Regions from separate parts of the Homo sapiens genome. Here regions 1, 3 and 4 are each linked to region 2. Evidence: fine-mapped expression QTL. A gene starts in region 2. Each other region holds a variant in brackets. All regions are shown on one strand. Distances are from middle to middle.

Region 1 (2,616 bases), 68 kb after region 2:
ACAATTTCTACTAAAATTAGGCATGTAAAGCTATTTGTTTTATCTTTTTACATCTTTTTATACGATATTTTCTGTGTTTATAAGGCCTAATTTCTGCTTCTATGTAGTTGTTGATTTGATTTTTTTTGGTTGTGACAATAAGGTATAAAAACAAGGGGCCTCCTTTTAAGAAATGTTCATACTACATTGTTGCACAACTCTGTGGTCATAATAAAGCAGAAAAAATAATGACCTATTCAGAAATTTCAGAATGTCAGTTAAGTGCAAGAATAGTGGCACCTTTTCTTTGACCTGAACTGACTACTGACTTGTCCGGAGAATAGCTGAGCATTATCCATTGCATCCCATTAGCAGTGTGCCTGGGTTTTATTGTAGAAATCAGTCATCTCCTGGCTGTTGAACCACGATCCAGCAAAACGGCCCACAGCCACAGAACTGCTCAAGAGTGAGCTGCTGCCCCCACCCCAGATGGAGGAGTCAGAGCTGCATGAAGTGCTGCACCACACGCTGACCAACGTGGATGGGAAGGCCTACCGCACCATGATGGCCCAGATCTTCTCGCAGCGCATCTCCCCTGCCATCGATTACACCTATGACAGCGACATACTGAAGGTGGGCTTAAGCCACGCTGCACAAAGGGAGCTTCACCTTGTCCACAAAAGGATCAAGCCAGTTTCTCACAGATTCTTTTAATGCCTCTAACATAAGTTCTTATGTGAGGTATTGGAAGCCCCTAAAAGTACATGCAAAATGTGTGTATATGCATTCAGGGAAGAGGACCCATACTTTCAGTCACCTACTTGAAGGAGTCCTTGACCTTTCCTCCTCCCTACCCACCCAAGAGATTAAGAAGCAGTGCCTACAAAAATTAGCCGTGCGTGGTGGCATGCACCTGTAATCCCAGCTACCCGGGAGGCTGAGGCAGGAGAATCGCTTGAGCCTGGGAGGCAGGCGGAGGTTGCAGAGAGCCGAGATCGTGCCACTGCACTCCAGCCTGGGAGACAGAGCAAGACCCCAACTCAAAAAAAAAAAAAAAAAAGAAACAGTGCATTTAGAGACTGATCCCTAGCCCAAACGCCCAGAGCCATAAGCATCAACCAGCTCATATCTAGATGAAGTATAAAGTAGTTCCCAGTGCTGGTTGCACATCTACTTCATCTCAGAAACTCTCTGACAATGCAGATGCCCAGGTCCCGTAGCCCATCTAGTGGCTCAGAATCTCCAGGTGTGAGGCATTTCAGAATCTCATTAAAAGCTCCCAAGCAGTTTCTGAAGTGTAGCCAGGTTGCCAGTTTGGGAAGACTTTAACATTTAATTTCTTTTAAAAAGAAAAAAAATCTGAAGCATATTAGTGAAATGTTAAAATGTGTTAAAGTTGG[G/A]TGAGTAGGTAACAGGTATTTGTTATATTCTCTATTATGTTTCTGTTTGCTTAATATATATGATATAATTTAAAAAGATAGAGTAGTGGAGGAAGTCATAGTAAAATTTATGAAAGATCAGTATAGATTTTAGAGACCAAACACAATTTTTACTGGCTGGCAATATTATTATAGAAAGATATTTGCAGGATTATAGGTGACTTTTTTATAGATGTCTTTTTTCATATGTGTTGTTTCTAAATTTTCTATAGTGAAATGGTACTACTTTTATAATACAAAAACAAATGAAAAAGAAAGCTATTGGCAAAATATGTAAATGCCATGTAGCTTTCAACAGGCCTGCCATGAATCACCTTGGTATGTGGGAGGGGCCTGATGCTGTTAGGTGGTCATCGCGCCACAGTATCCCTGAGAGTCAGAGAGAATGTGTTTATTTGATTATCTCCCTCTGAAAGGCAAATATCAATGTGGCCAAGAATTTGGACTTTGAACCCAGGCATCCTTCCCATTGGTTGAAAGGTTAGCTCTTGCTTTCCAAAGCAGGCCATGAAAGATATGTGTCCTCTTCCCTGATGTGTTCAAAGAGGGATGGACTTGTCAAGACTTGTTTTTTGAACCTGGAAATAAGCAGTGTAGTGCCTACTGCAAGCCACAGATTAATATTTTAAAGGATCCCTTTGATAAGGCTTCAATGATGATGTTTTAATCGGTCCTGTTTTAGGGCAACTTCTCAATCCGTACAGCCAAGATGCAGCAGCATGTGTGTGAAACCATCATCCGCATCTTTAAAAGACATGGTATGTACGCCCTTTTTAAAAATGATATTTCTTCTCATAAGACTTTTTTCATCATTAGAAAGTACTGTTAGTGTTCGGGCATATCATATTTTACTTTCAAATTCAGTTATAAATAATTGACATCATATGGAATTTAAGCTTATTTTTGAAACTGATTTGAATATTACAGCCTTACTATTAATACTAAAATGCAATTGGTTTGTGGAGTCAGAAATATGACCAAACTGTCAAACTTAACTCTAGATGAGCTCTCTATTTATAAATTTAGAGAACTCAAGAAAAATTGATATGACTTCAATGGTCCCAGTAGCAATTACTTAACTGTCAGGTTTGTGTTAATTTTAGGTTGCCTTCTAAGGAGAATGTGAACCTGATGATGAGCTATTTTTTCTCATTTGGTGTAGGAGCTGTTCAGTTGTGTACTCCACTACTGCTTCCCC
Region 2 (2,616 bases):
TAAATTGGCCTTGGGTCAAGCTAGTGCATTTGTGTTATCTGGCCAGAAATGAGTGGATAGATGGCAGCAAGGAATTTACACAATCATTATTTAGTGAACAGTGGAGGAGTAAGCAAGGTAGACAGAAGAAACGTCACTTAAACCTAACTTGGGTTAGTACAATAGGATTATTCGAAATGGACATGCAGCATTAGTAAGTTACTGAAGATGAAGTGCAATAACAATGTCTGGGTAGACAGGTTATTATTTTATAAACTTGAAAAACGACGACTTGAGGCAGGATATAACACAAAGACTCCCTAAATTCACACTGAGTGAACTGGGAAGGGAACATGATTCTCTTCATGGGAAGGTAGCTCATAAAGATGCCTGAGTGGAAAGACAGTTTTCAATTGAATTTGCAAGGTGGTAGTGGAGATCCCCAAAGCTGGGGAATGTAGAGACAGAGAACATAATGAGGGTGTTGAATCTGTGGCTCAGAGAATAAGTTTGGGGGTACTAAAGTGGGAGGAAGGAGGGTGGGGGGGGTCACAATTTTTACTCCCGGTAGTCTTGTTCTGGGAAGGTACAAGGTGAAATTAGAAGTGACCTCAGAACCCATCGACGTCTGCCCTTTAAGAGTTTCCCGGCCGGGCGCGGTGGCTCATGCCTGTAATCCCAGCACTTTGGAAGGCCGAGGCGGGCGGATCACAAGGTCAGGAGATCGAGAACATCTTGGCCAACATGGTGAAACACCATCTCTACTAAAAATAGAAAAATTAGCCGGGCGTGGTGGTGCGCGCCTGTAGTCCCAGCTACTCTGGAGGCTGACGCAGGAGAATCGCGTGAACCCGGCAGGCGGAAGTTGCAGTGAGCCGAGATCGCGCCACTGCACTCCAGCCTGGGGAACAAGAGCCGAAACTCTGCCAAAAAAAAGAAAAAAGAGTTTCCCGCACTAGCCATGCCAGGGTGGAGAAGTTCCAGCAAGCACTTCTGTTAAAGATACTTGTTTCGTGAAAACTATACAATGTGGCGTTTTCATTCCTATCTGTGATTCATTTCTTAAGTTCGTGGAGTTCCTTTGCTCCCCTTCCCCCAGCAGGATGTGGGCAAAGCTGTCCCCCTGCCTTCTTCCTTCGCCTGGGCTTCTGGAGCCTCCGGAGCTAGCTCCCGGCGCGGAGCTCCGCCTACGGCCCGTCCCCGGCGCGGAACCCCGCCCACGAGCCCGTTTCCAGCGTGGAACACCGCCCATAGCCCGTCCCCAGCGCGGAGCCCCGCCCCGCAGGCTGCCGGGGGCCCACCGCCGCCCAGGCAAGGCCGCCCTGCCTTGGGCGCAGCGCTGCCATGGCTGGGGGCCGTGGGGCCCCCGGGCGCGGCCGGGACGAGCCTCCGGAGAGCTACCCGCAACGACAGGACCACGAGCTACAGGCCCTGGAGGCCATTTACGGCGCGGACTTCCAAGACCTGCGGCCGGACGCTTGCGGACCGGTAGGAACGTGGCTTGTCAGGCCCGGGCTGGCGTGCCCTGGCCTCCCCGGGCCCTGGGCCAAAGCCCGGACACTTCCAGATTGGGCCGCCGCTTTAGGATCCTGCAGTCTTTTCATCCCTTAGGTTCCACCCATGCTCACTTTAGTCCTTGCACCTGCAGCTGGTCTGCAGAATCCCACCTAGGCCGAATTCTTCTACAGTCCTTTCCCCATGATTTCCCCAGAGGAATCCCCCTGGATTCCTCCCTCTTACCTGGCACTGCTTCTTATTCCTGCCTACATCCCATAACATAACTGCCTCCTTCCAACCTTGTCCTTTTTCCCCTCTGAAAGCCCTTGCGGATGATACCACAGCAATTCATACGCGCCCCTTGCTACTTTGTTCTGAGAACGCTTTTTGGGCTCTCGCACAGGCCTTACGTCCTCAATCAGAATTCTCAAGTCTCATCCATGCATTCAAATCTGCACGCCACATAATTCCCTCTGTACTCCCCAGGCATCCTCACTGTGTTTTCCGGTATGGAGGAACTTTCCATACCTCTGCACCTTCCTCTAAGACATTTAGCTCAGAATAAAGCACACATTCATCTTAGCTGTAGTAGAGAGAGGGTTCTAGACTGAGTCTAGAGAAGGAGTGTCCAATCTTTTGGCTTCCCTGGGCCACACACAAAATACACTAACACTAAGGATAGCTGATGACCTAAAAGAAAAAAAAAATTCGCAAAAAAACCTCAATGTTTTAAGAAAGTTTACGAATGCGTGTTGGGCCACATTCAAAGCGGCCCATGGGCCTCGGGTTAGACCAGCTTGCTCTAGCTCTAGACCTTTTAAAATGGCATTTTGTTTAAAATAATATTTTGCCTTTTTGTCTGGAAATTAAGGCACGTTATAAAGTATTTATACTGACAGTTTTTTCCCCATCCTTGAAGAGTTGATCTACCAAACTATTTCTGAATATTATCATATTATCATTTAAAACATAGTTCTAACTTCATCTGCTTTTTTTTTTTTTCTTTTTGAGACAGGGTCTTGCTCTGTCTCCCAAGCTGGAGTGCAGAGGCATGACCACGGCTCACTGCAGCTTATTCTCAAGCAATCCTTCTGCCTCAGCCTGTCAAGTACCTGGGACTACAGGCACATGCCACTACAC
Region 3 (2,616 bases), 81 kb after region 2:
AGTCTGCTGTCACACTGCTAATAAAGATATATCCGAGAGTGGGTAATTTATAAAGGAAAGAGGTTTAATGGATTCACAGTTCCACATGGCTGGGGAGGCCTCACAATCATGGCAGAAGGCACGGAGGAGCAAGTCACGTCTTATATGGATGGCAGAAGGCAAGGAGGAGCAAGTCACATCTTATATGGATGGCAGAAGGCAAAGAGAGAGAACTTGTGCAGAGGAACTCCTCTTTATAAAACCATCAGATCTCGTGAGACTTATTCATTATCACAAGACCAGCATGGGAAGGACCCGCCCCCACGATTCAATTACCTCCCACTGGGTCCCTCCCATGACACAGGGGAATTGTGGGAGCTACAGTTCAAGATGAAATTTGCATGGGGACACAGCTAAACCATATCATTCTACCCATGGCCCCTCCCAAATTTCATGTCCTCACATCTCAAAACCAATCATGCCTTCCTGACAGTCCCCCACAGTCTTAACTCATTTCAGCATTAACTCAAAAGTCCACAGTCCAAAGTCTCATCTGAAACAAGGCAAGTCCCTTCCGCCTATGAGCCTGTAAAATCAAAAACAAGTGAGTTACTTCCTGGATACAATGAGAGTACAGGCATTGGATAAATACACCCATTCCAAATGGGAGAAATTGGCCAAAACAAAGGGGCTAAAGGCCCCATGCAAGTCTAGAATCCAGCAGGGCAGTCAAATCTGAAAGCTCCAAAATGATCTCCTTTGACTCCATGTCTCACACCCAGGTGATGCTGATGCCAGGGGTAGGCTCCCATGGCCTTGGGCAGCTCCCCACCTGTGGCTTTGCAGGGTACAGCCTCCCTCCTGGATGCTTCCATGGACTAGCATTTAGTAGGGACTCTGTATGGGGGCTGCAAACCCACATTTCCCTTCTGCACTGCCCTAGCAGAGGTTCTCCATAAGAGCCCCACCCCTGCAGCAAACTTCTGCCTGGGCATCCAGGCGTTTCCATACATCCTCTGTAATCTAGGCGGAGGTTCCCAAACCTCAATTCTTGTTTTCCGTGCATCTGCAGGCTCAACAGCACATGGAAGCTGCCAAAGCTTGGGGCTTGAACCCTCTGAAGCAACAGCCTGAGCTGTACATACCTTGGCCCCCTTTAGCCATGGGTGGAGCAGCTTAGACACAGGGCACCAAGTCCCTAAGCTACATAGAGGAGGGGGGCCCTGGGGCCAGCCCACGAAACCATTTTTTCCTCCTAGGCCTCCAGGCCTGTGATGGGAGGGCCTGCCATGAAGACCTCTGACATGCCCTGGAGACATTTTCCCCATTGTTTTGGTGATTAACACTTGGCTCCTTGTTACTTATGCAAATTTCTGCCGCTGGCTTGAATTTTTCCTCAGAGAATGGGGTTTTCTTTCCTGTCTCATTGTCAGGCTGCAAATTTTCTGAATTTTTATGCTCTGTTTTCCTTTTAAAACTGAATGGTCTTAACAGCACCCAAGTCACCTCTTGATGCTTTGTTGCTTAGAAATTT[A/C]TTCTGCCAGGTACCCAAAATCATCTCCCTCAAGTTCAAAGTTTCACAAATCTCTAGGGCAGGGGCAAAATTCTGCCAGTCTCTTTGCTAAAACATAGCAAGAATCACCTTTACTTCAGTTCCCAACAAGTTCCTCATCTCCATCTGAGACCACCTCAGCCTGGATTTCATTGACCACATCATTATCAGCATTTTGGTCAAAGCCATTCAACAAGTCTCTAGGAAGTTCCAAACTTTCCCCCATTTTCCTGTCTTCTTCTGAGCCCTCCAAACTGTTCCAACCTCTGCCTGTTACCCAGTTCCAAAGTCACTTCCACATTTTTGGGTATCTTTACAGCCCAACTCTACCGGTACCAATTTACTGTATTAGTTTGTTCTCGTGCTGCTAATAAAGACATACACGAAACTGCGTAATTTATAAAGGAAAGAGGTTTAATGAACTCACAGTTCTCTGTGGCTGAGGAGGCCTCACAATCATGGTGGAAAGCAAAGAGGAACAAGTCATGTCTTACATGGTTGGCAGCAGGCAAAGAGAGAGAACTTGTGCAGGGAAACTCCTCTTTATAAAACCATCAGATCTTGTGAGACTTATTCACTATCATGAGACTATCATGGGAAGGACCCGCCCACATGATTCAGTTACCTCCCACTGGATCCCTCCCATGACACATGGGAATTGTAGGAGCTACAATTCAAGATGAGATTTGAGTAGGGACACAGCCAAACCATATCAAGATTATAGGAGGTTTTAACATTTTTTGGGTTTTTTAAAAATTTAAGTGATTTATGATTAACTCTAAGATTAAGCTATGTCAATCTGAGCCTTCATTTAGCCCTTAGGTTTCATGTGCCAATTTATGGATGAACTAGGTTGTACTTGCCTACAGTCTTAAAATGGCTATAATTTTGTTTCTTAATAATTTCTACTTTAGCTCCTGGGAGTTTTCTTTCTGGCTTTATGACTATGGTTGTTTCCTCTTACTCCAGCTGAGTACCAGGGACTGTGAGATCAATCATCTCTAGCCACTGACCTCTTCTGGGGCAGTCTATGAGTACAGCTGGTGACAGCCAGGATCTGGCATCCAGGTGGGAGGAGAGGGAAG
Region 4 (2,615 bases), 73 kb after region 2:
TTTTTTTGAGATGGAGTCTCACTCTGTCTCTCAGGCTGGAGGGCAGTGGCGTGATTTCAGCTCACTGCAAGCTCCGCCTCCCGGGTTCACGCCATTCTCCTGCCTCACCCTCCCGAGTAGCTGGGACTGTAGGTGCCCGCTACCATGCCCGGCTAATTTTTTGTATTTTTAGTAGAGACAGTGTTTCACTGTATTAGCAAGGATGGTCTTGATCTCCTGACCTCGTGATCCGCCCACCTGGGCCTCCCAGAGTGCTGGGATTACAGGCGTGAGCCACCGCACCCGGCCTGCATACACTTGATATATGTGTAGATATATATATTTGGCCCTCTACATCCTTGGGTGGTTTCTGTATCCATGGATCCAACCGAGGATGGAAGATACTCAGAAAAAAAAAAAAAATTCACAAAGCTCCAAAAAGCAAAACTTGAACTTGTCACATTCACGTGTCTGAATGACCGTGCACATCAGGTTGTTTGTATCACCAAAGAGTAAGGTGTCAAAGAATACACTCATTTTGACCATACTTTTTGGAGGGGGGAGTGGAATCTTTTTTTAAATGTATGTCATATGGCTTATTGTGAAACAGGTTTTGTGTTTATAGTCTAAGAAGAAATTCCTTCCACATTCCTCACTTCTGTTTTTCTTTTATAGTGAGTAAAGTGATGTGGGATTATTCTGAGGTAGAGGTAAATAAACAGCAAATCAGATGAGACATTTGCGTTTTGTTGAAAAAAAAAGAATAGAAGTACAAATATTTACATAGCTATACTTAAAGCTGGCTTCTTATTCTCTAAATATTAGGAGACTAAAGTGCAGATTTTTAAATATCAGCTCCCATTCTATAAGCTGATATTGAAATGCAAAAAATTAAAAAGTGAATGTATGTTGAGAATTTGGCCCATCAGTGGTAATGATACCATGTTGGATCTGTTGGGGCAATCTAACAATGGTTTTACTAGTTGTGGTTACTATTTGAAGGTGTTTATTAAGAATTTATTCTAAGAGATTGATAGGAAAATCAGGAAATTCACCATAAGAGATAATACCCATTTTGACTGCATTACTATAAAAGTGACATTTTTTTTAAATTCATAAATAAATAACTTGCACTAATTTTAGTTGGACATAATAAAAGCTCCACAGAGAATATTTAACTAAAAGTGAATTTTAAAAAAAACCTAAGAAATGCCACAGTGAATAAGGTTGATGGTATGTCTAGCAGCGGAGTCCACCACTGACCAAAACACTGAAGAACATTTCAGGGAGTGTGAGTGGTGAGCAGTGCATAACTTAGTGAATACACTAAAAGCCACTGAAGTACATACTTTAAAGGGGTGAACTTTATGGGACAGGAGTTATGTTTCAATAAAGCCGCTATTAACAAAAGGCACATTTTGACATTGACCTTTCATA[TTTTG/T]TTTATTTTTCAGATCCCTTTTGCAAGATATGTGGCAAGAAATAATATATTGAATTTAAAACGGTAAGAAACAATAGGAGATTCCATTTGGTAGACATAGGAAAATAGTTGAATAATTTGTCAACCAGGAAAGAATATTTTATTTCCTGTGATCCTTACACAGTTAAGAATTCTGGGTTCAGAATATTGAGCTTAGAATATGAACCAGAAGCCCAGCCACAGTACCCCTTCCTGTAAGGTAACTAGGACTGTTAGAAGGAATGTAGCAGGTAGGTACCGTCATGTTCCCACAGTCTATTCTGTACCTTCTAAATGTCCCCAAGCAACATTACTAATTATTTTCACAAACGGTTGCTTGATAAAAACATCTGGCTGTTCATGATCACAGATGGCCCCTTTTAAAACTTAATTGGTGGGACAAATGGCCAGTGGTCTCTATGTGAAAACTGCCTACACAGGTAACCGAACAAAAGCTGCTTGTAGAGAAGTGGAGTAAACCCAGCAGGAACGCTGAGCGCTGAGGACCTCCAGGCACTTAGCCCTGGAAAAAGGCTTTCTGTACATTCAAATACCACAGGGGTCCAACACTGAGATCTTCATAATTTGGAGCAGTATTGTTGTCAATGAGGCACCCTACTTTAAAGCTCCTTTCTTCAACTGAAAGCAAAGCTCTTTACATGCTTTTATTCTAGCTACAAGTGAATAATTAATAATCGTAGTCCTATGGTGTGGGTATCCCTGTGTAGAAAGCAATCACTAAGGTAAAATTTTTTGGTGTAATTTCATCTCTATTTCAGACATTTAAAAAACCTTAAGCCCCATAGCTTAATAGTGGCAAAACTGGGAATTGGAACCTAGATCACAAGGCAAGGCTGTTCCAGGTCAAATTTGTCTTTCAGTCCTCTTGATCATACCACCGATTAATTTTTTTTCATATTTGTTTCTTATATCTTGTTCAACAATTTCTTATACATATTTCTTTCTAGTAAGCAATGACCTTAGAAATCTGGGTTTCTCTCTCCAGATACTGCATAGAACGTGTGTTCAGGCCGCGCAAGTTAGATCGATTTCATCCCAAAGAACTTCTGGAGTGTGCATTTGATATTGTCACTTCTACCACCAACAGCTTTCTGCCCACTGCTGAAATTATCTACACTATCTATGAAATCATCCAAGAGTTTCCAGCACTTCAGGT

The links. PIP is the estimated chance that this variant, and not a neighbour inherited with it, causes the effect.
Region 1: its variant is the best candidate, but not a certain one, in a credible set for the expression of EIF2AK4 in subcutaneous fat (GTEx, PIP 0.61).
Region 3: its variant is the best candidate, but not a certain one, in a credible set for the expression of EIF2AK4 in thyroid (GTEx, PIP 0.51).
Region 4: its variant is the best candidate, but not a certain one, in a credible set for the expression of EIF2AK4 in nasal epithelium (TOPMed, PIP 0.51).

What each region holds. Positions count from the first base shown.
Region 1 is chr15:40,000,613-40,003,228 of GRCh38, forward strand. It overlaps EIF2AK4 (eukaryotic translation initiation factor 2 alpha kinase 4), which reads left to right. Exons shown (of 39, transcript NM_001013703.4): 21 at 376-612; 22 at 2,101-2,176; 23 at 2,581-2,616. Among named protein-coding and RNA genes, the nearest start is that of SRP14, 37 kb to the right of the region's middle. RefSeq lists an enhancer at 1,676-1,970. The variant G/A (reference allele first, on the strand shown) is at 1,380.
Region 2 is chr15:39,932,873-39,935,488 of GRCh38, forward strand. It overlaps EIF2AK4 (eukaryotic translation initiation factor 2 alpha kinase 4), which reads left to right and starts at 1,243. Exons shown (of 39, transcript NM_001013703.4): 1 at 1,243-1,467. The coding sequence starts at 1,324. RefSeq lists an enhancer at 956-1,095 and a silencer at 1,116-1,525.
Region 3 is chr15:40,013,381-40,015,996 of GRCh38, forward strand. All of the region lies in intron 27 of EIF2AK4 (eukaryotic translation initiation factor 2 alpha kinase 4), which reads left to right. Among named protein-coding and RNA genes, the nearest start is that of SRP14, 24 kb to the right of the region's middle. The variant A/C (reference allele first, on the strand shown) is at 1,514.
Region 4 is chr15:40,005,583-40,008,197 of GRCh38, forward strand. EIF2AK4 (eukaryotic translation initiation factor 2 alpha kinase 4) reads left to right here. Exons shown (of 39, transcript NM_001013703.4): 24 at 1,434-1,483; 25 at 2,445-2,613. Among named protein-coding and RNA genes, the nearest start is that of SRP14, 32 kb to the right of the region's middle. The variant TTTTG/T (reference allele first, on the strand shown) is at 1,417.